7 linked regions of the Homo sapiens genome follow. The protein of the gene in region 2 interacts with the protein of the main gene of each other region in a pairwise test. Each region holds a gene or a part of one and is shown on either strand. Other genes may lie near its edges.

Region 1 (3,189 bases), on a different chromosome or scaffold from region 2:
GGCTGTCCTGACGACCAGTTCCTCCTTCCCTGTCCCCTCTTCCCTTCCACAGTCATCCCTTGGTCTCTGTGTGGCGTCGTTTAGTTTTTACAGCTTAGTTTCATTTGGGCTGCAGCCCAGCCCCATCCGGGAGAAGCGGAAGCTGGGGCTGAGTCTCCCGCAGGGTGCAGGAGGTGGTCTGGATCCCCTTGGGACAGGCCTTGCCCCCCAGAGCCCACCCCACCCTCCACAGCTACCCTCAAGCCTCTCTTTGGGGTGAGGAGTCAGGCGGGCCCCACTTGGCCACCCAGGGCACCCTGCTCTGCACTGCATGGTGTTCACGCCACCTCGCAGGTGCCCCCCGCGGGACCCAACAGGACCAGCTGTCCCTTGGAAGTTACCCAGCTTGGCTTTGCTGCCAGAGAATGTTTCCGCCACCTCCACAAGCCGCGCGATGCCCGAACTGTGATCTGGGATGTCATCCTCAATCCTTCCCACAAACGTGGCTCACACATGGCCTCATCTGCCCAGGTCTCTGCTGCTGCTGCTGCTGTGAGGCCAGCGGCGGGCCAGGTTCCCTCTGCTGTGTATTATCACAGTTTCCATCCTTGGGGGCTTTCCCTTTCTCTCGTGGGTCTGTGTCCGCACAGCTGGATGTGTGGCCTGGGGCTTCCTGTATTGGCATCAGGGCCTGTGATCTTCCAACCACACTCTGAAGTTGACTCCGAGCGTATCCTCTGAGGATGAAGGTCGTGTTTCATCTGACTGTAAACCACTAAGTCATGTGTAAATTTGGGAATCTTGTATTGTTAACCAAAAGGTGTCCCCAGGCTGTTGAGGCAGATGCCCTGGGCAGAGGCTAGAGAGCGCGCTCCACGGGCCACCTCCAGGTCTGTTGCACGCCCCCGAGCTTCAGGTGGGTGCACTGCATGTGGGGCACCCTCCTTCCAGCTGAGTTCCGTTCAAAAGCAGTCAGCAGCCCTGGATGCCTGTGTGCTGGGCACTGCTGGTGCCAGGTGGGCTGATGGGATGGACCTGAAGCTGGTGTCACTGGGAACCAAGTGTCCCAGAAGGTGGGAGAGTCTCACCTGCCCTCTGCTGTGGGTGTGGCTGCTCTGGAGCTCGGAGGTTGACTTCCCGTCTGTGAGCTCTTCCCTTTTACATATAGATAAGTGAAAAGCAAAAGGCATTGTTCCTTTTTTATGTTTTGTATCACGATCTCCTCATCCTTTGCATGTCGTCCGTTTGGCATCCCTGTTATGTTAGGCCTCTGCTGGATCCAGACCCTCACGAGAGGCTCCCCGCCCACAGGTGCTCACATTCTGGCTCGGGGGACGAGGTTGGGCTTCGAGGTGGTGTGCTTCAGCCTCTGGCTGCAGCCCCTTCTCACCTATAGTGAGGCCGGGAAGATGACCGGGAGTGCCAGGCTCATGCATCCTCTGCTGCAGGGAGGAGATCTGGAGGTGGGGACTGAACAGCCTCCCCACTGGCTAAGAGAAACACGTGCAGAGAAGCGCTTTGCTGGAGGGCAGGCACCTGTGGGTGCCCAGACAGGGGAGAGAGGGATTTGGACCTAAGGCCCAGTGAGCCCTGACATAGCACGTGGATTCTGCAGGAAGGTCACAGACCTGCCTTGTTTGCCTCTGGTTCTGAGTACCTCTCCTCCTTACTGCAATGTCCCCTGAAGGTACACTCTGGCTGCTTCCCACACACTGGTGCAGAAGCAGAGGCCATGCTCCTGGATGCCTGCTTGCCTGATGCTAGTTCTTCTCTGTCTCATACACGCAGGGCAACAGGTTTGTCTATGCTGGCTCTAACTCGGGCGTGGTCCAGGCCCCGCTGGCCTTCTGTGGGAAGCACGGCACCTGCGAGGACTGTGTGCTGGCGCGGGACCCCTACTGCGCCTGGAGCCCGCCCACAGCGACCTGCGTGGCTCTGCACCAGACCGAGAGCCCCAGCAGGTATGGGGCGGGATGCGCTGCCTGGGGATGTCCCCCATGTGTGTGGGTGAATAACACGTGCCGGTTGTTTTGCAGGGGTTTGATTCAGGAGATGAGCGGCGATGCTTCTGTGTGCCCGGGTGAGTGACTCCTCGACGTCCCATTTCCTTTGGGAGTGGCGAGGTCTTGTAGCCATTTCACGGTGCTTCAGTTCTGTGGCATTTGTGTGTGTTTTGTTTTTCTTTCTCCACTCGGAACAGAGGTCAAGTGTTCTGTAGCAGACTCGTGGTCTTCTCTGTCTTTTTTTCTTGCCGAAAGAGTACTTGAAGCCACTTAGAGTGTATCTGCTTACTGGGAAGCAGTCTCCTTCCAAAACCATCCTGTTTTCTTTCTGCTTAGCTTGGGGCTCATTAAGCAAAACCTAAGCCTGTTATAAATGGGGAGAAAGGAGCCCATGAGTGATTAATCCTCAGGCAGTGTAAGGGCTGGGGTGGTGTTTCCCCTGGGGCTCCCACCTGGGATTCACCCGCCTGTGGATGTCTGAAATAGCACCACACCCAGAGGGAGGGGTGGCATCAGGCCAGATGCCCCTTCCCCAGCAGCCACCTTCCAGGGTGCTAAAGGCAGACTTGACCCTCAGTTCTGTGTCTTCCTGACCCTGACAAGACAGCTGTCATCAGACTAAGAAAGGTTTAGGCAGCTGGGCATGGTGGTACACGCCTGTAGTCCCAGCTACTAGGGAGGCTGAGGCAGGAGGATTGCTTGTGCCCAGGGGTTCAAGGCTCAGTGAGCTTATCATGCCACTGCACTCCAGCCTGGGGTGACAAAGTGAGACCCAGACTCTAAAAAGAAAACAAAAGCTGGCCGGGCACAGTGGCTCATGCCTGTAATCCCAGCATTTTGGGAGTCTGAGGCAAGAGGATCACTTGAGCTCAGGAGTTCGAGACTACCCTGGGCAACGTGGTGAGACCCTGTCTCTACAAAAAATACAAAAATTAGCCAGGCCTGGAGGTGGTCACCTGTAGTCCCAGCTACTCTGGAGACTGAGGTGGGAAGATCCCTTGAGCTGGGGGGGTTGAAGCTGCAGTGAGCTGTGATTGCACCACTGCACTCCAGCCTGGGCAACAGAGCCAGACCCTGTTTCAAAAAAAAGAAAAAAAAGAAAAGTTTAGGCAGGAGGAGAGTGCTGAGATGCACTGAAAGGCCAGTCTTCCTTGCAGCCATTAGCAGAAGCGTCTCGTGTCTGATTCAAAGAGCTGACACTAGGCAC
Region 2 (3,500 bases):
CTATCTGAATTAAACTTTAAAAAATTGAGAATATTTTTGTCAACAACTGTCATATTTTGTTATACCTCAACTTTGAAAAATTTCTGAATGTGTGTGATAAAAGATTGATGAATTCTAATACCTAAACTGATTATTGCTAGGCCTCAAGCATCAAAATGCCTGACATGATAACTTTTTTTTTTCATTTGTAAAAGATTATGTAGTTTAATATTTGGGGCTATTAAAATAAGCCCACAATACATCTGCATTTTAACAGTAGACAACAATATTTTTCTTATTGATGTATCAGAAGTACAGTTATTTCTTAATAAAAGTATGGTTGCTAGACAGGCTGCAGGCAGTATTTTTGAAAAAAAAAAAAAAAAAAAGAAGAAGTCAGTGACCAGGCCCTTCATAGGTTAAACCCTTAAATGAATGACCTCACCTGATGAGGTGCAGTATCGTGTTTTAAAGCAGTCAATTTGTTCTGCAATGTTCTGGAAATACACGCGAGCTTCTGTTACAGTGCAAGGAGCCAAGGTACACGTATGTGCAGACACTCACCCACACACGTCCCTCGGTGTCTTCTCAGCAAAGCTTCCTACTGCATTGTGTTTCATTACCATTTCTCCTGGTTTTAACCCCAGAGCACATTCTAGTTTAAAATTATTGCTAAAAGAAGAGCCAGGCCTTCAGACAAACAGAATGATGAAGAATTAGATTTATTATATGTAATATAGTTTTGCTAGTATCCTGGCATCTCTGTTTTTACACACACACACACACACACACACACACACACACACACACATGCATGCATTCCTGACATCATCTTTTCCTGAGCTGTGGGATTTTCAGTTCTACTGCATCCGCTTTCATGGGGCCTGAGGGTCATGGAGATTAGAGACGGTGGGGTGCTGGGAGTAAGAAGGTGCTCATTAAAGAGAAGATGAGTATGCAGCACCTTTGAGCTTCATCCATTCACTTGATAGGAAATTACAGAGCACACGCTTGCTATTTTATTTAATTAGAAGCAGACCTTTGTAAATACAAATGCACCTTAAGGACTTCAAAGGTGATTTTTATTTAATTCACATAAATGTATGTAAGGAAGAAATGTTATCAGGTGAACAATTTCAGGGCTGCCTCCACTTCCCTTTCTCCCCCATCTTTATTAAACAGATTAAAAAGCTATCCATAATCTCAGGGTTCACCTAAATTCCGAGGCCTTTTAACTTAAGCTGCATGCCCCTCCAAGATGCCCTCTGTAGGAAAACAAAATGCCACGCAGACCTTCAATAAATGCCAGTGGATCGTTCTCCACTTTTTGACTCTCTCCTTTGTCATTTTGGTGTGACCACGGTTTGCTGCCTCGGGGGATCAGTGAGTCACGGGGGGCAGAACCAGCGCAATACAGCATTCTGGTAGGGGAACTAATTTTGACTAAAATATTTGCCAATTCTAATCCCCAATTCCTGGACCTCCGGGTAGCTGGCAAGGTATTTTATGTTAGATGTGTCTGGAGTAAGGTGCACGGAGTATTTCGACAAGAGACTCAATTCAATGCGTATTAAAACTTGATTGAGAGAGGGAGAGAGAGAGGTCATTTTATAAAGAAAGACCTGTGAACACTGTAGATTGGAAATTTATGTTTGCAAAATAAAAGGATGGGTTTATCAAGTGGATGCATTTACAAAATGTGGCATCCAGGTTTCGTAAAATTAGCTGAATTCTACGGGTAAGATTATGAATGTGGCTCATAAATAATTAATAGGTAGTGAAAAAGAATGTATTTTGCATTAGGCAGTGCATTCAATAGTATTTCGGAAATGAGCACTTCGATTTCCTCGGTTTCCATGCGTGGCCCACCTCTCCAGAGCAGGGCAGGCACCCAGGGGTGTGCCCACACAAACAAGCGCGTGTGGGCATTTTCTTGGCTGCTGCGCTGAAGTGCACGCTGGGCCTTGGTGCCCGCACCCTCAGCCTGGGAGATAGGGAGGTGGTGCTACCTGCAGGCCGATTGTGTCCCCGCCATAGGACACTAGTGGGCGGCAAACCTCACAAGACTCTTGCAGCCAGCCTTCAGCAGAGCCAGCAAACCCAGCCGCCACCGAGGGAGGACTGCTCCATGCAGATGGTCAGGGGCTTTCTTCTGAAGACGCCTCCCCCACGATCTCTCAAGTTCACTGCGCCCAAACTCCGGCGTCGTAGAGTTCGTCTAACAGGAACCGGGCAAAGGCAACCGCAGGTCAGGCGAGGTCCAGCAGCCTTTGTTTTCAACTGTACAGCGGAGGACCGTATTCACAGCAATATCTAGAAACCTAGAAGGTGCCCAGAAAGGAAACACAGGTGTTGCAGCGGGTAGCGGGCCCGCAGAAGGGTGCATTTGCACCCCCTTTCCAAAGCCGCGAGGGAACCCCGGCGTGGCGCGCGCCTCGGAGGTGGCAGCTCCGGGAGCAGCTCCGCGCCTGATTGGCTGACCTTCCAATGTCATTCCAGGAGCCGCCGCTTCTCCTGCTGATGGTGACAGGGGTGATGCTGACGTGCCCGCTCCTCCGCAGTCCATCAATCTCCGCAGGCAAGGCTCCGGGACCGGGAGCCCCCTTCCCTCTCCCCCAGGCCCACTGGAAAACACCTGTTCCCCTGGACTGGGGGGTTAACTCTTCAAGTTCCAAAGACCTGGGCACAAAAATGCTCATCTTATCTCTCCGCGCCCCTCCCCCCAACTATATTTATGTTCTTTTCTTCAATGTTGTGAAAATGCCAGAAAATTCAAAGTTGCATTTCCCTTGCCGAATCTATGGGTTAAGATAAGGCAGTGGGAATGGAAGATTCCAGCAGCCCCACGGAGTATCCACTATGTCGTTCTGAATTCAAAGGGTGGAGCACACGGATGTTTTCTGCAGGTGACGCAAGGTCTGTCAAGGTGGCAGGAGGGAAGCAGGGACAGGATTTTGGTTCAGAGGTCAGACAGCTTCTGACCAGGACGTTCAGAAGGGTTGGGTTTCACAAATCTGCTCCTGAAAATCAGTTCCCTCCATATTATCCTTTTTCTAAAAATCTTGGCTGTTTCCTTGATGGAGTCTGTGGTAATCGTTACGCCTGCATTTAGGTGATGCTGATTTGGCTAGTGACTGCCTCTCTCACTAGCTAGACAGGAGCCTCCATAGTCTGAAATGCGTGCGAAGCCTGAGCGTGTCCTTAGCACAGAGCAGAGCACATGGTATGGAGTAGTGGAAATAGATGATGTTCCTTACGGAGTGAAAGGAAAAAGTGATAGGCAGAGCCTTTCTCCCCTCCTTAACTCCTGTCCACCTTCCTCCCTCCCGTCCACCTCTCTCTTCTGCCTCTAGCTGATTGGCTCCCCCTCTTAGTTTGCTTTCCTGGACTTGCTCTCCTGGTCCCTATCTTGCATTCTGACTAAACCACTGGACTCTTTTGCTCTACCCACCTTTTTCTGTCGTAGTGACTCAATCACGGTAGAAATGTTTATTTTCCAGAAACGCCTGTGGCTTGGGGCA
Region 3 (3,500 bases), on a different chromosome or scaffold from region 2:
AGTTTCTCTGTCTATAGAAGGGAGATAATAATGGTTTTTATCTAATAGGCTTACTGTAAGGATTAAATGTATTACTAAAGCCTATGAGCATTAAATGTATTACTATCTTTGCTTAGAAGAGTGATGGCACCAGCTATTATCTTTCTAAATTATAGTTCCAACTATATTACTCAGTATTTTAAAACAAAACCTTTTTCATGTTAGTAAAATCAGTTCCAAAATCCTGGGAATGACACGAAGCTCTTTACAATCAGCCCCCAATCTATTTTTCAAGCTTCAGATCCTACCTTTTCCCTGTATCACCTGGTTATAAAAAATGCATTGCTGATCTCCCTACAACAGGGTGTCTTTTCAGTCTTCCATGTCTTTTTGAAGGTTGTTCCTTCTGCACAGGCTACTCTCCACCCTTCTCCTTTCCACGCTACATGGTGTGTTCTCTTTCTTTTTAACGGGTCTTGTCTTTATTCCCACAATTTACAGCTTAGGTCCCTCTCACTTCTCATCTGGATGACTGCAACTGCCTCCAAATGTGAGCTATCTGCCTCCAGATTTGTCACCTTCACGTACCCACTATGATCAGAACGAGCTCTCTTGGCAAACGTGCTCATGTCCCTTTCCTATCTAAGATCCTTCCATCACTCCCCGCTGTCTTGTTAAGTGAAATACAAACTTCAAACATTCTACATTAGGTTGACGTTCATCTTGTTATTCTCTTCGCCCTCCTCTCCAATCCTTTCAGACACACACGCACACACGTGTGTACATGCAAAGCACACAAGAGTCCCGTGTTCTTTAGCTTTTGAATATGCTGTTTCTTCTGATTCTTTATCCTTGGTTAGGTTAAACTTTAAATTTTTCAAGACATAAGCTCAAGCTTCATGTCTTCTGAGATGTTTTCTTTGATCCCATTTCCCCTACTCTCAGACATAGTTAGAAATCACCTAAGTCCTCCCGTAGTGACCTGGGCACCTCTCTATCCCAGTATTGGTCATATTACATAGCCATCGCTCATCTTTCCTGTGAAACTCTTTGAGGTCAGAGACTATTTTCCATCAATCTCCAATACCTATAATAAAGTGCACAATAAATGCATTTAAAATGAATAAAACTCTACTCCAAAGCTTCTTCCTATGGTAACAGGAAGAACCATTGTTTCCTCCATTATGCTTTTACTATCTCTTGATTATTCACCATATCCTGTTAATTCCAACTTCCAAAAAATGTCTTTCGAATCCATCCATCTCTTCATCTCTACTGCCATTTCCCGGTTGAGCCATTATGACCCACTAGAAGGTATTCATAGGAACTTTAAAAAAAATTACAATATCCTCTGCTCCTAAACGGCACTGGCACGTAACAGGCACGGATACATTGGAGAGATGACTTAGTTCAACCTCCATGACTGGTTTTCTTGGTCCTGTCCCCCTCCAGACCAGTGTCCACAAGCAGCTTAAGGGCTCCATCATTTCTCAACCTTTTTGTGCTATACTACAGTTGCCTCACATCCACATTCAAGGTTATCGATCCACTCTTAATAGCTGTGTCTCATCTATTGTTGCCCATCAAATGAGTTTACAGTCAATGATCACATTATCTTCATTCTTTCTCAAAACGCTTCTAATTCATGCTCTTATGACATTTTTTTCATTACCCTCAGTCACTTGCAACATACTTTCACAGTCTATCTTGGATAGCTCCCTAATTCCTAGATCTTCATGTGTAATTTTTCCTCTGCTATCTCTACCTCATGGTGATTTATTTTTTTCTCAAGTGGCTTGTAATTTTTTTATTTTATGTCCATCTTTTTACTTTGGGAGTCCTGAGAGCCCTGGATTTAAATGTGAGCCCCTTGAATGTAATTTCATTTGTTTCTTCCTAAGTGCTAATGGTTTCAATGATCTTGGACAGTTTGCTTTTTTAAGACTCTCCCTCTGTTGCCCAGGCTGGAGTGCAGTAGTACAATCATAGCTCACTACAGCCTGGATCTCCTGGCCTCAAGTGATTTTCCAACCTTGGCCTCCCAAAGCACTGTTACCAGAGGCTGAGCCACCATGCCTGGCCAAATCAGTTTTTATGTTAATTTCTCAGGGTGTTCCTGAATAATGCTTTTGTGTATTATTTAGATCGATGCCTTCAAGTAATGTTTGGCCTACCCAAGGTTCTGGAGAACCCACTTCCTTGCACTTTTCCTGGGTCAGTAGGACGATTTTCAAAGGTCCAGGTTTGCAGGCTGCTTAATTCTGTAACTTTCACACAGCGTCAGCTTCCCAAGTCCTATCTCCCTGTTGGAGTACCAGTATTAAAAGCTCAATCCCTAGAAACCTTATTTTGGTTTGGAATCTCACTGCGCCATGGTAAAGTCAGCTTATACTTATTTTTCTAGTGGTTATTTCTTTTTCCTTCTGGAACCTATGCGCTTTCCTTTAGCTTTTGAGAGAGAGAGACAGAGAGAGAGAGAGAGACAGACACACAGGGAGAGACAGACACACAGGGAGAGACAGCATGGGCTGTCCTGTTCCTGACAGGAACAGGATTTAATAATGGGCAGGAGGCCCATCCACATTAGCTCCACCTGCAATACTCCAAGTAGGTGAGTGGTGAACTTCCTAACATACAAAATCTGCCAATGGCTTCCCAGTGACCTTAGGTTAAAATTTAAACTTCTTAAAATGTGATACACAAAGACCTTCAAAAGCTGGTCCCTGCTACCTCTCCTTCCTTCCATGACTGCCACTCCCATTGAAAGCCACTGCAAGAATTACTGTTCTTTCTTTTCTATACCCTCCCTGGGCTTTCCTGATGCTGTTCACCTTGTCTGAAGTACCCTTCTCCACTCTTCATGTGGTTAACTCTATCCATCTTTCAGAGCTCAGTTTTTCCAAGATGCCTTCCCTGGTCCTCCCAGATGATGCTTCCACAGGAACTTGTATCTCCCCCTATCACAGCATGCACATGTGTCTATTTTTTGTGTCATCAAAACTGTTCATCTTCTGTTGAACTCACTGGACTGTAAAGCTCTGAGGGCAGGGATATGCTGTGCCCAGCTCGATGCCTGGCACACACCAGGCACTCACTTCACATTTGATGAATGCAGAGAATGCTTAGTAAGGTTTTAAAAGTCTGTTTCCAGAAGGATAGATACCATGTTATATTAACCCATATTCATCCATAAGTCTAGCAAACTGTGTGCTGGATAAAGGCATACATAGGGAAAAAAACATTTATTGTTTGGATTGTGAGTAAAACAGAATTCTCTTAGTGGTTCCCAAGATGATGGAACCACAACTCATCACAAGGAATCTTCAGGTTGCACCGGGAATAATCCAAATGCAAGTCACACAACACTTGGCATTTGAAAAAAAAAAAATCATTTTCCATTGAGGATTTAAATCAATTTTAATAAGCGCAAAATCAGACATCAAATAAATGGAACTACAATACTAATTATTTATCCAGACAAAGCTTTCCAAACCCCACCCCAACTCCTACCCCTGGAAGAC
Region 4 (4,266 bases), on a different chromosome or scaffold from region 2:
GGGAGGGACTTGACTTTAACTGGCGACCATGGAGTGAAGAATATGCTGGAGAAAGCCACTGTCTGCATTTCTCCCTCCTCCCTGTGCTCCTCTCCTCCTCCTTTTCCTCCTCCTCTTTCTCTCTGTTCTAGAACCTGAATAGTTGGGCCTGGCTGAGGCAGAGAGATGCATCTACAATTTCCAGGCCACCCAGACTGTTTTCTCACCTCCCCTCTGTTCTAAGTGACTGCTCCCTCCTCATCTCTCCCCACCAAAACCCACTTCCCCCCACCTCTGGCTTTCTGGAGAACATGAGCAGGCCCCAGGTCAGGGCCTTCCTCAGCTCATGGATCATGTCCCCCAAAAGGGTATTGACCCAGGGTCAGCCCCAGAACCACATCCCCCAGGAAGGCCTCTTATGCAAGAGGTTTGAGTCCTTTGGACATCTTTACTTCCAGAAAGCAAACAGGAGGGGCCAGGTGCTACCGCCTTCCGGTGATCATTGTAGCTACTTATTGAGCACCTACTGTGTGCCAAGCAAGTGCAAAGTAGCTTGCTAGGTGCTTCATGCTCCTCCACTCCTGCAAGTTAATTCCTCCAACAGTATTTGGCAAGTGCCAGGCACTGCTCTAAGCACATGAGCTACCTTGGTGAACAAGGTTTCTCCATGAGTACATGCTGCTTATTGTTTGTACCTGACAGGTGGGGGAAACTGAGGCTTAAAATTTGCCCCAAGTGGTGAAGCAGAGATTCTGTTTCAAGGTATCTGACTCCAAAGCCACACTATCTGCCCTCCATCTCCTTTCCTCTCCACTGGAGTAGAGGGTGCATGGGTCTGACTCAGGGTGGGAATCCCTGCCCTCAAATGCTTACACAGTTGCTTTGAGAGGGGAGGGATGACGTCTGCACACCTGAGACGTCTCAAGAGGTTTCATCCTCAGTATGTGAGTGACCCTGTGGCCCAGGCTGAGTACCTAGGGCCCACGGGACACAGAAGACAATGATTTGAGCTGTGTGTCTCATGGGTGAGAGGATGCCTGAAAGTGGGGAGCGTGAGGCCAGGCTTTTCAGGAGTGGGGGGATCATGAACTTGGGGAGATAAAGGAAGAGTGAAATCTGGATGGGGAATGGGCTGTTCAGAGGCTTGGAGGTGGGAAGGATCCCAAGACAACTGAAGATGACAGGCATGATTGAAGGCTGGGAGGGAGTGCCAGGCGCAGGGATGTGCGTGCAGGAGAAGGGTGGGGAGGCCGTGCTGCTTTTGATGGCTGAGGAGGTGAGACTGGAGCTAATGGGCCATCAGGAATCTCCCAGCAGAGTAATGACAAGATGCAAATGGCGTTGGGAGATGATCCTGACGGCATGGTGTATGGGACCTGGGAGCTATCACAGGAGCCCCCAGAGGGCCTGGCTTAGGGGGGAAGCTACGTTCAACCAGACTAGCCTTCACTGCCACTTATCCCCAAGTCTTCAAGAGAAAGTCACACTGAGTCCTTCCCTCCTTCACGCCCCTGCCCAGACTCTCCAGCTCTACCTACACCTCATCAATGCCACAACTTTGTAATACAGGACTGGGGGGCAACAAGGTTACCTCTCATGGAGGGTCTGACCAAGGAGCAACCTGGAAGAGGATGAGATGGGTGATTTCGAACAAGGGCACAGCCAGGGCTCCAGAAATGCTGTCGGTGATCTGGGGCAGGGGGCATGGCCTCTGTGGGGGAACCTCAAAGTGGGTGATGCTTGCGTGGCAGCACATGATCCTAGGCCAGCCACAGAGAGACTGAACTAGGGAAAAATCCCCCTTTGCCACCCATACCCTCTTACTGCCAGGGGCAGCCTTCCCCTAGCTAGGAGAACCTGGGGTCGACCCAGCTCTTAGACAGAGAAGTTACCCCCAAACCCTGTGTGACATGAGTGAAGATTTGGGCGTGGTAGCCCACAAAAATATTCCCCCTCCTCCTCTGTTGGACTCTACAGTTTCACAATCAGTGTTCTATTCCTTTGGCTTAAGATTTTTGACCCAAGTTATTTTTTTAATGGTGCCACTTTAAGTTGTTATCATGTATCCACACCTTAGTATGAATGAGTCAATCTGATCCTTTTCCAGGAGTCGATTTCGTTGTTGATAGAGATGAAGGAAGGCTTTAAAATCCTAGAGTCTAGGACAGTGGGGTGGGGGAGACTGGTGAGGGGAGGATCAGGATGCTGGGGCAAAGAAGGGGCAAAGAGAGAAGAGAGGAGGGCACAGAAGGGAGAGGGTGGACGAGCCTGGGAGGGATGGGGGCAAATCACTCACTTCGTGATTTGGGGATGGGGTGATCAGAGATAGCCTGAGCAGAGACCGTAGTACAGCCTTTTACCAACTCCCTCTCCCCACTTGGGTGCCTGGACCCCCTGTTCCTGTGTCTTCATATCTCCTCGATGCAACAGCCTGGAGCGCAAACTTTCTGGGATATGACCCCAGCCTGGCTTCCTATTCTGCCGTCGCCACCCGCAGCTGGACAGGACAGGGGCTCTTGGCAGATCGGCAGGGGCGCAGTCCTGGAGACCAGGACACTCTGGGAAGGGGGCGCGCGGAGGTTTAGGATCGAAGCGGCAGGGGCCGCGGGGCTCTGCGTCCAGGGCCGGGGCAAGGGGACCCGGCCAGCGGGAGGCTCACCTGCAGGACACGGTGATCTCCACCTTGGTGGCCGGGATGCTGCCCGCCAAGGAGTCGAACTCGCTCAGCGACGCCATGTCCTCAGGCTGCTCCATCGCCCACCGCACCCCCCACCCCAAATTAGTCAATCCCTGCGCGATTCACGCCTCCTCCGGAGCGACTGGAGCCCTGGGCTCTCCCCCAACTCCAGAGCCTGGGCTGGGCGGCAAGGGGAGGAGAGAGGAGCGCGAAGAGGGGGCGTGGGAAGTGAGAGAGGGAAGAGGGCGGAGGGAGCGGGGGCCGCGGATCGAGGAGGGGGCTCGGGTGACGCCGCGAGGAGGCTAGGGGCCCAGTGGGGAAGGGCAAGGAGCCCAGGGAGCGGGGGCACAGCGGGGAAGGCAGAGAGGGGCGCGGGGAGAGGGGCTCGGGGAGAGGGCACCGGGAGGGAAACGCGGAGTCGTGGAGAGGGGCACCAGGAGAGGGACGCGCGTCTGTGGGCAGAGGTAGAGGGGATGCAGAAGACAGGGAGAGGGGCGTGAGGAGCGGGAGGCGCCGGATGGGGCGCTGGCGGCGGGGGTGGCGGGGCGCCGGCAGCGCGGAGCCCGAGCGCCCGGGCTGCGCCGCCTCTCCCTGGGTCTTGGCGCCGGCGGCGACGGGGCTGAGACGCGGCTGCGAGCGCCACCTCCTCGGCTCGGGCTTCGGCTCCGGGGCGCCCGGGCTGCGGGAAAATCAAATCTGCCCGAAGCCGCAGCCTCCCGCCGCCCGGGAACGCCAGAGGGGGCGCCCGCAGGGGCCGGGGCGGGGCCGCGGGCGGGGTCTGCGCGCAGGGTGAGTGTGAGCGTGTGTGTGTGCGCGTGTGTGTGTGTGTGCGCGCGTGGCGGGCCGGGGGACGCGGTCCAGATGCTGGGGACGTGGCGGGTGACAGCAAGAGGTGGTCCTGGTCGCGCGCATCTTCATTTGCGCCCGCCCCCTCTCACCACCCCTATCTCCCATCAGGGGTCTCCATCCTGGGGGAGGGGGAGGGTTATGGGAACCAACGGGCGCCTTTTTGAGAAAGGTCTATGCAGGGTTGAGAGGGGGCATAAGTGGGAGGGAGGTGTGCAAAAAAGATCCCCTCCCAGGGGCTTGGGTGTGGAGGGTCTCTGCTGAGTGTGCGCCCTACTCGGGGGCGGGTCTCAGTTCAGAAACAGACCCTACATCTCCTTCTGGGGAGGTGTGTGGGGGCGACCCCAGTGCCAGGAGGGACTACCTCGGTTTCCCAGTGGCCCAGGTGGGGTCGGTGCATGGGCGCCTCCCCCATCCGTGGTTCCCGCCAGCCGCGGCCTCGCCAAGTCGGCTGCCGAAACCACGCGCCAGCGCCCTTCCACTCCCCCGCCCGTCGTGACCACACGACTGAGCCAGCCTCCAGGTCTAGAAGCTCCTGCCACCCAGTCTGGTGGCAACCAGACTGGGAGATCGGCCCGAGCTCCCTGGGCTTCTATGCAGCCAGCACCGAGTAGGCGCGTGCTGTGTGCCTGGCGAGCGAGGGGAGAGTTGGGACACCTCTCCTGCAGTCCTCTTCCCAGCCAAGCCCCTCGCGATCCCCCGCCCTAGCCCAGCCTTGCCCTCCCGGGCATGAGGTTGCAGCGCAGAGGCGTCTCCCTGAGTAA
Region 5 (3,500 bases), on a different chromosome or scaffold from region 2:
TTCATAAGGCAAAAGCTACAGAAACAAAGGAAAAGAACATTTCTTTTAATTTGAAAAATAACTGAAATTTTAAAAACACAAATTGAGGCTAGCTTTATTCGACTTAAACTTGTGTTAGATCCTGTACTCAACATTAGCACCATATCAACTACTTCATCCAAAACAATCTCATTAGACAACACGTAAGGAAAGAAATGGCCCAACATGACACAATCACGACTCTACTTGTCCTATGGAGCATAAGGTGGCTGATTATGAGTGCAGTATAAGAAAATGCAAGGTAATAAGGTAATAGTAACATTATTAAACTCCATTAGTTATGATCATGGGGAAAAACCTTTCATCATTTTTGAATTTTCTATGCAGCCACAAATTTAATAAGATATTGTAGCTAAAGGGTCAAAATAAATTAAGAATGAAACAAGACAGAAAATACATCTTTTCTTGTATAAATCCATGCTCAGAAACACTTAAAATAGTATGTGGAGTTCACTCCTAAAGCCCGTTCAATTTCCACCTCTTCCTGATCATTGACTATATGTGATCTATTTATCAAGTGAAATCTCAGATCTCCCTTCTGGTTACATACTAACTAACTATTTATGCAAGTAAGTTATTATATACCCTTTCTCATTAGGTTGTAATTTTTGTTTACAGAGGTTTTATCTGAGTTTGTGGTTTTTCCCAAAATACTAAGAACCTTGTATAGTAAAAACAATAAAATAACTGCCCAATAATAGAACTTAAACAGAGGTTCCGAAGAGAGCAACTGCGGAGATGGAGTCTGTCATATAATAAGATTGTAAAGATTAGAAAGCTTCTGTAGGGGAAGATAAAAACTAAGAGATGATTTCACCCTTTTATAAAATCTGAGAGTTGAGAAAAAAAACAGATTTTATAATCCTATCTAGAAGAGGCCCTTAAAGCCCAACAGCAAGTCTTAAAAAAATCAACAAGTATTACTTAATGGCGAGAAAGCCCAACAGCATCTGTTTAAAAAATCAACATGTATTACTTAATGCCAAGTGACAGATATATGAAACTTATTACCCTCAGAGATAGTACAGGTTGAGAATGACAGTTTCCTAGTAGAGTTCCTATAACTTACATACAATGATTCTCACAGAAGTGTTGAGGAACAAAAAGAGACAATTACAAATTTGGGGGGGGATGATTTTTAAAGTAAGACTAAGTCTATCCAGCCTGCAAGAAAAGAAGTCAAAGGAAAGTAATTTCAGTTTACAAATATATAAAGTATTTGTGAGGCAGTTCAGGGTATTGGATAAGGGCACAGGCTCTGGAGTCAAGCTGCCTGATATTCATTATTTAACTAAATGTGTCACTTACTTGACTAAGTTACTTAACTTTTCTATGCCTTAGTTTTCTCATTTACAAATGGAGATGACATTGTATCTACTTTATAGGATTGTGGTGGGAATTAAAAGTCAATACTTGTCCTATAATGCAATACTAAAAAGATAACCCAATTTAAAAATGGGCAAAGGATGTGAACAGACATTTCTCCAAAGAAAACAGACACATGGCCATAAGCACATGAAAAGATGCTCAACATTATTAGCCATCAGAAATGCAAATCAAAGCCACAATGAGCTTTCACATTCACTAGGAAGAATATAATCAAGACAATAAAGGCTGGCAAGGATGTAGAGAAACTGGAACCCTCATGCAGTGCTGGTAGTAATGTAAAATGGTATAGCCATATTGGAAAACATTCTGGCAGTTCCTCAAAAAGTTAAACATAGTTACCACATAACCCAGGATTTCCACTCCCATATATACATATGTATAAAATATACACACAATGTACACACATTTTATATACAATATACTTATATATGTCTACACAAAATCATGTGCCCAAATGCTCATAGCAGCCAAATAGTAGAAAAATCCAATGTCTATCAACTGATGAATGGATAAATAAAATGTGGTTATCCATTCCTTACAATGGAATATTATTCAGCAACAGCAAAAAAAGAAAGTACTAAAAACATGTGACAACATAGATGAGCCTTGAAAACATAAGTTAAAGAAGCCAGCAACAAAGGAGCACATATCGTATGATTTCATTTATATGAAGTGTACAGAGGAGACAAACACATAGAGATAAAAAGTAGATTGACTGGTGGTTGCCTAGGGCAGGTATGCCATGGCATGAACTGGGGGTTGATTATCACACGGTACATGGTTTCTTTTTTGGGGGCTGAGAACGTTCTAACATTGACTGTTGTGATGGTTGTACAACTCAGTGAATATGCTAAAAACAACTGAATTATACAATTTAAATGAGTGAATTGTATGATATATGAATTATATCTCAAGAAAGCTGTTATAAAAACAAGTCAGTGTGTGACTTAGGACAGTGTGTAATACACAAGTGCTCAATAAAATGTAAATTATTTTTCAAGTGGTAACAAACTAATTTTAAAGATAAAAGAAATATTTCAAAATGGAAAGAGTAATGTATTTTATACATTAAAAAATTACTCACACATTAACATCTATATAGCATGAGAGAACTTTTCAGAAATGGTGAAAATATTCTCTATCTTAATTGGGATATGAGTTACAAGTGTTTGGCAAAATTAAGAGTATCTGCATTTCACTCTATGTAAAATAGTCTCAATCAAGAAAAAACAAAGCCTGAATATTCTATCCAGCCCTCATTTTCTTAATAATGAAAATCAAAGGCAAGCTCAAAGACTTGGAGTTTGTGTCATTCTTTGACACTAAAGGCTGTGTGTTTGTCATTCTTAAACAGAAAACACACACATTTAAAAAACATCTGCATGGCTTAGAGAAAAGGAAATTAACAATTTTCTCCAACTTTCATTTTGTTCTTAGATTTCAAATAAAAATACTTTTTCCATTTTAAAAAATTATGTTTTCAGGATATAGTATGTCCAGAAAATATATACATATATTTTTAAAAAATCAAATCAAACCTTTAATGCTATAGGATCAAGATTGAAATCCCAAACATCTCCAATTGAGTCATCCAGAGCGTCCTCAATTCTTCTCAGTTGAGAGGTATACTCCTCAAGAAATTTCCCATAATTCTTAAGTTGGACTTCGGCATGAATTTCTAAGTTTAAATTTTAAAACAGTATGTGATAAGTGCAAGTAATGAATTGCAGGACATTTACTTCAAATAACCTCAAAAGTCACGCAAAGCACTGTTAATTATTACTCTGGAATGTCTGGACTTCCTGAAAATAAAGTTCCAAAGTTAAACAACAATTCAGCTTTCAATCTTCTCTATACACGAAATAATTTTAAAAGCAGTAGATGTTACCATATATAAAGTTACTACCTTAAAACCCTAACATATTATGAAAAAGCCACTAGCCCATCTACCCCCATAATAGAGGGCTTTGAACCAATCTGAAAAGTGCCTTAAACAATTCAATGTCCTGATTCTATCTTTTAGTCATGAACAACTCTTTTGCAAAAACAAATATTCATGATCTGAAGGTGAA
Region 6 (3,500 bases), on a different chromosome or scaffold from region 2:
CATTCATTTCCCTCATTCTCCACTGCAACCAGCTTAGTCTAAATTGCCAGCTTCCATCTTTTGACTGGACTGCACATATAGCCCCTTATGTGTCTCCTCATATGCCTTTGATCCCTTCATTCTATTCTCTACCTGCAGTCAGAATGTTCTTTTAAAAAGACTAGGCTGGGCGCAGTGTCTCGTGCCTGCAATCCCAGCACTTTGGGAGGCCCAGGAGGGTGGATCGCTTGAGCCCAGGAGCTCAAGACGAGCTTGGGCAACATGGCAAAACTCCATCTCTACAAAAAATACAGAAATTAGCCAGGCATGATGGTGTGTGCCTGTAGTTCCAGCTACTTGGGAGGCTGAGGTGGGAGGGTTGCTTGAGCTTGGGTAGTAGTAGAGGTTGCAGTGAGCCGAGATTGCACCACCACACTCCAGCCTGGGTGACAAGAGTGAGACCCTGTCTCAAATAAAAAAAGAAAGATACAATTTTAATTTACATACTAGAAAGCTCACCCTTTAAAAGTGTATAATTCACTGGGTTTTAGTGTATTTGCAGGATTGTACAATCATCACCATAATTTCATTTTAGAACATTTTTATCACCCTAAAAAGAAACCTGATATCTGTTAGCAAGTCACTCTCTAGTTCCCCAGTCCCCAGTGTCTTTTTTTTTTTTTTAGCTCCAGATAACCACTAATCCACATTCTGTCTGTTGATTTGCCTGTTTTGTGTATTTCATATTTATAGTGTCATATAGTATTGGTCTTTTGTAACTGGTTTCTTTTACTTAGCATAATGAGAAATTTCACATTTTGGAAGCATTTTAATTTGAGTAAAGCAGCATGAATCTTATATAACACCGTAGTATTAGTCACAGAAAATAGGTTAATTCTAAATAAATGTGATCTGTCTTTAGTTTGTATCGAGTTTATAGGTCAGCAGAATTTTCCCAAGCAATGATGGCATGTGCCTTTTTCCAATCTTTTATTTGTCATTGGTTTTTCTACCCTTGATACCAAGAAACTGTTGGCCAGGTGCAGTGGCTCACGCCTGTAATCCCAGCACTTTGGGAGGCTGAGGCTGGCAGATCACCTGAGGTCAGGAGTTCGAGACCGGCCTGACCAACATGGAGAAACCCTGTCTCTACTAAAAATACAAAATTAGTCGGGCATGGTGCATGGTGATGCATGCCTGTAATCCCAGCTACTTGGGAGGCTGAGGCAGGAGAATCTCTTGAGCCCGAAAGGCGGAGGTTGCAGTGAGCTGAGATCGCGCCATTGCCCTCCAGCCTGGGCAACAAGAGTGAAACACTGTCTCCAAGAAAAAAAGAAACTGTTGTTCCTACCCGGCACAAAGTAACAGAGACCCAGAAATCTGCCTGTGATCTGAAATATAAATACACACACACACACACACACACACACACACACACACTGTGTGTGTATGTGTATCTCATATTTAATTGTGGGCAGATCTAGTGATTCTGAAATTTCCTCATTCTGTCAAACAGTTTTATTAGTGGAATGCTTTGTTCAGGCTTGATTTCTTCAATGAGTGTTGTGTGTGTTGGACTGTGTGAAAATGTGGTTGGCACATTTGTGAAAGGTAAAAATACAGGTCACTTGGCCTTTCTGAATTTCATGGGTAAAGGCTGTGTCCTCATTGTGGCTTCTCCTCCTAGAAATACATAGTGTGTGACTGAGTCAGTAAAATGTTTATTGAATAATGCTGTAGTATTTTAACATATACAACCATAATACAATCTCAGCTTGATTAGTTTAAAATACTTTTACCTCTAAGATTATTGATTCATAGTGGCATGTTATCTCCCAATAGCATAGACATTTCTCTGCCGTCACCCTTGACAGTCATCTAACCCTTGCTTGAGTAATTCCATTGGCAAGGAGCTCTCACTTTTCACTGTTCTAATTGTTAGGAAGTTCTTGTATAAATTCCACTGAAATCTGCTCCCACTGACTTTAGTTATGCCATCTAGCACAAAACAAGTGTAATCTTTTATCCCTGAAATCATCATCCTCAAACTTAACATCAGCGTGGCTTCCTTAAGCATGAGGATCTGGTCCTTGCTATATTGGTTGTCTTTCTGGATGTGTTTTAGCTGCTCACTGTTTGGATGTGCAGAATCGTTATAAGTGAATGACAGTGTGGCTCTCTACCTATAAGTGGCCTGGTGAAGGCTTGAGGCTGCCTCTCATCCCAGAGTGCATTGCTCATTCCTCTATGGTATAACAGGGTGCTGCATTATTTGACTCGATCATTTTTCTCTTTTTTTTTTTTTTTGAGACGGAGACTCGCTCTGTCTCCTAGGCTGGAGTGCAGTGGGCCCATCTCGGCTCACTGCAAGCTCCGCCTCCCGGGTTCATGCCATTCTCCTGCCTCAGCCTCCTGGGTAGCTGGGACTACAGGCGCCCAATAACAGGCCCAGCTAATTTTTGTATTTTTAGTAGAGACGGGGTTTCACCATGTTAGCCAGGATGGTCTCTATCTCCTGACCTCGTGATCCGCCCACCTCAGCCTCCCAAAGTGCTGGGATTACAGGCGTGAGCCACCGTGCCCGGCCAACTCGATCATTTTTCTTAACACTCCCATCGCATATGAATTCATAAAGAAGGATCGACTAAAACCTTCTAGTTCTTGCAACACTCATTAGACTGCTGCCTTTAGTGTTATTGCTTCAAGTTTCTTTTGCTTTTTTTCAGCATTTATCTAAGATAAGGAAACGTTAAATTTTGACATCTCTCTTCTAGATGAAGTAAAGAAGGTCTTAGACAAATTTTACAAGAGGAAAGAAATTCAGAAACTGGGTGCTGATTATGGACTTGATGGTAAGGCCCAAAACATCTTCATAGAGGTATTTTATTACCTCTTACGGTACAGCTTGGTCAGGACTGTACGACCCCTCATGTGACCTGGCTGTTGTAGTCTGGAGACACGTCCCTGCTCTTTGCTTCTGGCTGAGTGGGAGACTGGCGAGGCTCACCTGGTGAGCCATACTGCACGGCAGAGGAGCTGCAGCTGCGGCCTTCCTTCATGCTGTGCTAGGACTTCAGTTTTAGCCCAGATCATAATAAACCAGCTGTACTGCCAAAAAAAAAAAAAAAAAAAGAAAAAAAAAGACTCTTTGATGAGTTTGGTGTGGTGTGTCTGTGTGCTTTTTAAAATGAGAACTACACCTTACATCTTTTCATTTTGTGTTTCTACAGCTCGTCTCTTCCACCAAGCTTTCATAAGCTTTAGAAATTATATTATGCAGTCTCATTCCCTGGATGTGGACATTCACATTGTTTTGAATGATATTTGCTTCGGTGCAGGCAAGTGTTTAGAGACTTTTTAAAATCCTATTGAACATACCTTCTATTTCTTCTCATACTTCATGCTCATTTCTCTAGAAGGGCTTATTTGGTTTAGAGTGGGTCTGGTAACATCCTCTGTAAATAATTCAGTGCTTTCACAGGATGACTTCTAGGTTGTTTGCTTTTATATTGGGTCCCTGA
Region 7 (3,991 bases), on a different chromosome or scaffold from region 2:
GGAGTAAATGGAAGAGAAGAATGTAGAGTCTGCTTCTTAAGGACAAGTCTAGAAAGGAAAAGCAGGAGAAATGGTAGTAATTTGAAGGGAAATATGATCACAGGAAAGTTTCATATATTTTTAAGAATGAGAAAGACTTGAACACAGTTGTTGATAAGGTAGTACAGCACAGACAAAAGAGCAGAGTTTAGAGTCAGGTAGACTTAAATTCTGGCCCTGTCACTTACAGTGACCTGTGACAACTAGTGTCTGGTAAGCAGAAGGCATCCAATAAGTGGTTTCAATGATTATTACTACAGGTAGGAGTGGTGTTCTAACCCCTCCCACATATCTTGTGCTCCAGTCTAGATTCCCTAAGTCTGTGTATAATATGTGATGGCAAAGAAACAGGATCTTTTTTTCTTCTGTAACACTCATTGTGCTATTCCCATTTCCTTGTGACAGTCTGCATGAGCTCATGAATGGCTGCTGTGGAAAATTACTGACGTCACCAGCTGAATAACAGGCTATCTGGAGAGTAAGCAGATGAAACTGATGTTAAATTATCAAATGTACAAGATTTTGGGCTCCTGCCAAAACCTTCATTGAGAACTAAGAAGAGAAAAACTGAAAACACACAGAGCTTTTTTTAAGCTTCTGAGCCAGCAGGCTGTTCCTACATCCACTCCAGGCATAGAAAGATGGCTGTAAAATAAAAGAGATGATTATCTCCTCCCTTCCCTTCTCAATATTTCACCCTAATGTCGGGTTCATTTCTGTGAGGTTCTACCCGAGTTCACTTTTCTATCAACCTGACATGTTTCCAAATTCACGAGGTATGCGTTTTTATATTGAAGCAATTGTTTGTTTACAGCCTTTTAATGTTCTGGTCATGGGTTATGTTAACCTATTACCCATATCTGATCAATAGACACCTCACCCTCTCCCCTCCCAGACCACACACCTCCACGCTTAAAAAGGGACAGGGAGGGCCAGGCACGGTGGCTCACGCCTGTAATCCCAGCACTTTGGGAGGCCGAGGCGGGCAGATCACGAGGTCAGGAGATCGAGACCATCTGGCTAACACGGTGAAACCCCGTCTCTACTAAAAATACAAAAAATTATCCGGGTGTGGTGGCGGGCACCTATAGTCCCAGCTACTCGGGAGGCTGAGGCAGGAGAATGGCGTGAACCCGGGAGGCAGAGCTTGCAGTGAGCCGAGATCGCGCCACTGCACTCCAGCCTGGGCAACAGAGCGAGACTCCGTCTCAAAAAAAAAAAAAAAAAAAAAAGGGGGGGGGGACAGGGAGAAGAACTAAAGCTCAGGCTACTATGATAATTAGGGATGAAAAAGCTACATTCACTTAGGATTATCAAAAGCCAGGAAAGATATCTATAGAATTACAAATTAATCGGGCCTGGCGCAGTGGCTCACGCCTGTAATCCCAGCACTTTGGGAGGCCCGAGACGGGCGGATCACCTGTGGTCAGGAGTTCGAGACCAGCCTGGCCAACATGGCGAAAAACCCCGTCTCTATTAAAAATACACAAATTAGCCGGGCGTGGTGGCGGGCGCCTGTAATCCCAGCTACTCGGTAGGCTGAGGCAGGAGAATCACTTGAATCCGGGAGGCGGAGCTTGCAGTGAGCCGAGATCATGTCATTGCACTCCAGCCCGGGCAAGAGCGAAACTCCCGTCTTAAAAAAAAAATAGAAAAGAAAAGAAAAGAAGAATTACAAATTAATCACCAAGAACAGAAATAGTGTAAAAACAAAGATGTAATTCAACTGTTTAGAGTGCAGAGATAATTGGAACTAAAAGAGCAAGAAAAGCGGGAAACATATGTACCTATAAACCTAATCACAAACCTGTCACAAAAACTACGAGTAAACGAGTCGAAGTTGAAAATGAGTTTTTGTGAATCAGAGTCTGATTTGACTTGAATTTACTAAGAAAGAATAAGAAAGGTGTAGAACATTCCAGGACATCTCTATCCCACCGCAAAACAAAAAAGAGCCATCAACCCACCACAAACGTGCAGCGTGAGACTGGAAGATACACTAGTCACCCAGTCACTGAAAACAACCTTTGAAACATCTTTATTTTTCTTTCCAAATAAAAAAGAGCCTAGGTCAGTAAACTAAGTATGAGAATAATTTTCAAAATTCCAGTCCTAACCACACCGGATGATTCTGGCTAACGTATGCCTCAGTTTCCCCCGTGCTAAAATGCAAACACACCGGTGTTCCGAGTCTCGGGCCTGGATCCGAGCCCGGGTTCTGCACCTGGATCTGAATCTTAAAGGGAAAACCGCAAGTTAAACCTGAGGAGGAGTCTGCAGCTGTCCCGGTGCCAGAGCCAGCCAGGCTCTTTTTAGAAAGCCCCCCGCCTCAGGCGCGGTTTTCGTAAAACCGCTCCCGGCTGCCAGCGCGGTGGATTCCGGCTGGCGCCCCGAACACCTGAGGTGGCCTCGGCCGTCTAGGGGCGGCCGCACCGGAGGACGCAGCCGACCTCCCCGCCCCGCCGCGTCCCCGGCCCCCATTCCAACGGCGACGCGAGCAAGGTCGGCCCGGCGGCTCTCCGGCCCGAGGCGGTGCTTCTCTCGTGGGCGCCTTCGGCCCATACGACCCTCGGTCGGACAGTCCGACCACAGCCGCCCCGCAGCCCCCGCCTGAGGGGAACTTGTAGGCGCCGGTGGGTCTCCGCTGACTCCCGCCCCGCACTCACCTGCCCCACGGGCCACCTCAGCGCCAATCCGGGTCGGGTTAGCAGCTTCCCCACTCGCACCCAGTCAGCGCTCAGCGGCGCCTAAGCGCACGCGTGGCGGGGCGTGGCATGGGCGGCCGCGGGTCATGCTGGGGGCTGTAGTCGTTCCCGCCCACTAGGCGGGGCGCGTCCAGGGGCTTTGCGCCCCCATCCCAAGGCCAGCATGCATAGCGATGATTTCTTCGTCTGCACCGCAGCCTGAGAAGCTTGGGACAGTATGGTGTGGACCAGCAGTCAGGGTGGTGGGAGATAGACGCTGCAAATAACTTGCTAATTTTTTTTTTTTTTTTTTTTTGAGATGGAGTCTCGCTCTGTCACCCAGGCTGAAGTGCAGTGGCGTGATCTCGGCTCACTGCAACCTCCACCTCCCAGGTTCAATCAGTTCTCTGCCTCAGCCTCCCGAGTAGCTGGGATTACAGGCGCCCGCCACCACGCCCAGCTAATTTTTTTGTATTTTTAGTACAGTATTTTTAGTAGAGACGGGGTTTCACCATGTTGGCCAGGCTGGTCTCGAACTCCTGACCTCAGATGATCTGCCCGCTTCAGCCTCCCAAAGTGCTGGGATTACAGGCGTGAGCCACCGCGCCAGGCCGGAAAACGAAATTTTCTGAGTACCTTCTGTGTCAGATTCTATGCTGTGCAATTCCCATCTCACCAACCCTCACATCCACCTAGGCTTCATATCACCTTTCTAGGGACTCCTAACCCTCGTGCTTCCACTAAAGCTGTGTTTACAAACATCAGGCTCTCCTGGTTCTTAAATGAAACTGAGCATCAGCCAGGGAAAGAGGGCATTAAGTGTCCAGGTGTCTGACTTCAGCTGAGCAGACATTTCATCAGTTGCCCCAAGTTCTGCCCAGAACCTGACATCTGGGTAGTTCTGATGCTGGAGTCCGTGTGAATTTAAACCAATCTTAAAGAAAATACAACAGCCTGGGTTAACAGAGTGAGACCCTGTCTCTACAAAAAACAACAAAAAATGAACCACGTGTGGTTGTGTGTGCCATAGTCCCAGCTACTCAAGAGGCTGAGGTGAGAGGATCGCTTGAGCCCAGGAAATCAAGGCTGCAGTGAACTGTGGTCATGCCACTGCACTCCAGCTTGGGCGACAGAGCAAGATCTTGTCTATATATATATATAAAAGATAGATATATGAATGTATATTATATATAATATATATGAATGTATATTATATATAATATATATGAATGTATATTTTATATATATACATAAATGTACATTTAATA

What was found.
Region 1: the proteins of DSCAM (region 2) and SEMA4D interact in a two-hybrid assay, tested with the Homo sapiens proteins (one large-scale study listed by BioGRID and IntAct).
Region 3: the proteins of DSCAM (region 2) and ZNF202 interact in a two-hybrid assay, tested with the Homo sapiens proteins (one large-scale study listed by BioGRID and IntAct).
Region 4: the proteins of DSCAM (region 2) and CPNE5 interact in a two-hybrid assay, tested with the Homo sapiens proteins (one large-scale study listed by BioGRID and IntAct).
Region 5: the proteins of DSCAM (region 2) and WASHC4 interact in a two-hybrid assay, tested with the Homo sapiens proteins (one large-scale study listed by BioGRID and IntAct).
Region 6: the proteins of DSCAM (region 2) and SUPV3L1 interact in a two-hybrid assay, tested with the Homo sapiens proteins (one large-scale study listed by BioGRID and IntAct).
Region 7: the proteins of DSCAM (region 2) and SGSM3 interact in a two-hybrid assay, tested with the Homo sapiens proteins (one large-scale study listed by BioGRID and IntAct).

What each region holds. Positions count from the first base shown.
Region 1 is NC_000009.12:89,379,925-89,383,113, reverse strand, and holds part of SEMA4D (semaphorin-4D isoform 1 precursor), read left to right. Parts: exon of another isoform or gene 1-1,686; intron 1,687-1,767; coding exon 1,768-1,940; intron 1,941-2,015; coding exon 2,016-2,059; intron 2,060-3,189. UniProt on the Homo sapiens protein: Cell surface receptor for PLXNB1 and PLXNB2 that plays an important role in cell-cell signaling. Regulates GABAergic synapse development. Promotes the development of inhibitory synapses in a PLXNB1-dependent manner.
Region 2 is NC_000021.9:40,840,659-40,844,158, reverse strand, and holds part of DSCAM (cell adhesion molecule DSCAM isoform CHD2-42 precursor), read left to right. Parts: intron 1-3,500. UniProt on the Homo sapiens protein: Cell adhesion molecule that plays a role in neuronal self-avoidance. Promotes repulsion between specific neuronal processes of either the same cell or the same subtype of cells.
Region 3 is NC_000011.10:123,731,661-123,735,160, forward strand, and holds part of ZNF202 (zinc finger protein 202), read right to left. Parts: intron 12-3,500; exon of another isoform or gene 1-11. UniProt on the Homo sapiens protein: Transcriptional repressor that binds to elements found predominantly in genes that participate in lipid metabolism.
Region 4 is NC_000006.12:36,836,645-36,840,910, forward strand, and holds the start of CPNE5 (copine-5), read right to left. Parts: upstream 2,801-4,266; 5' UTR 2,734-2,800; coding exon 2,639-2,733; intron 2,139-2,638; exon of another isoform or gene 2,052-2,138; intron 1-2,051. UniProt on the Homo sapiens protein: Probable calcium-dependent phospholipid-binding protein that may play a role in calcium-mediated intracellular processes. Plays a role in dendrite formation by melanocytes.
Region 5 is NC_000012.12:105,110,731-105,114,230, reverse strand, and holds part of WASHC4 (WASH complex subunit 4), read right to left. Parts: intron 3,107-3,500; coding exon 2,967-3,106; intron 16-2,966; coding exon 1-15. UniProt on the Homo sapiens protein: Acts as a component of the WASH core complex that functions as a nucleation-promoting factor (NPF) at the surface of endosomes, where it recruits and activates the Arp2/3 complex to induce actin polymerization, playing a key role in the fission of tubules that serve as transport intermediates during endosome sorting.
Region 6 is NC_000010.11:69,183,234-69,186,733, forward strand, and holds part of SUPV3L1 (ATP-dependent RNA helicase SUPV3L1, mitochondrial), read left to right. Parts: intron 1-2,705; exon of another isoform or gene 2,706-2,753; coding exon 2,754-2,831; intron 2,832-3,209; coding exon 3,210-3,317; intron 3,318-3,500. UniProt on the Homo sapiens protein: Major helicase player in mitochondrial RNA metabolism. Component of the mitochondrial degradosome (mtEXO) complex, that degrades 3' overhang double-stranded RNA with a 3'-to-5' directionality in an ATP-dependent manner.
Region 7 is NC_000022.11:40,369,403-40,373,393, reverse strand, and holds the start of SGSM3 (small G protein signaling modulator 3), read right to left. Parts: upstream 2,801-3,991; 5' UTR 2,706-2,800; intron 1-2,705. UniProt on the Homo sapiens protein: May play a cooperative role in NF2-mediated growth suppression of cells.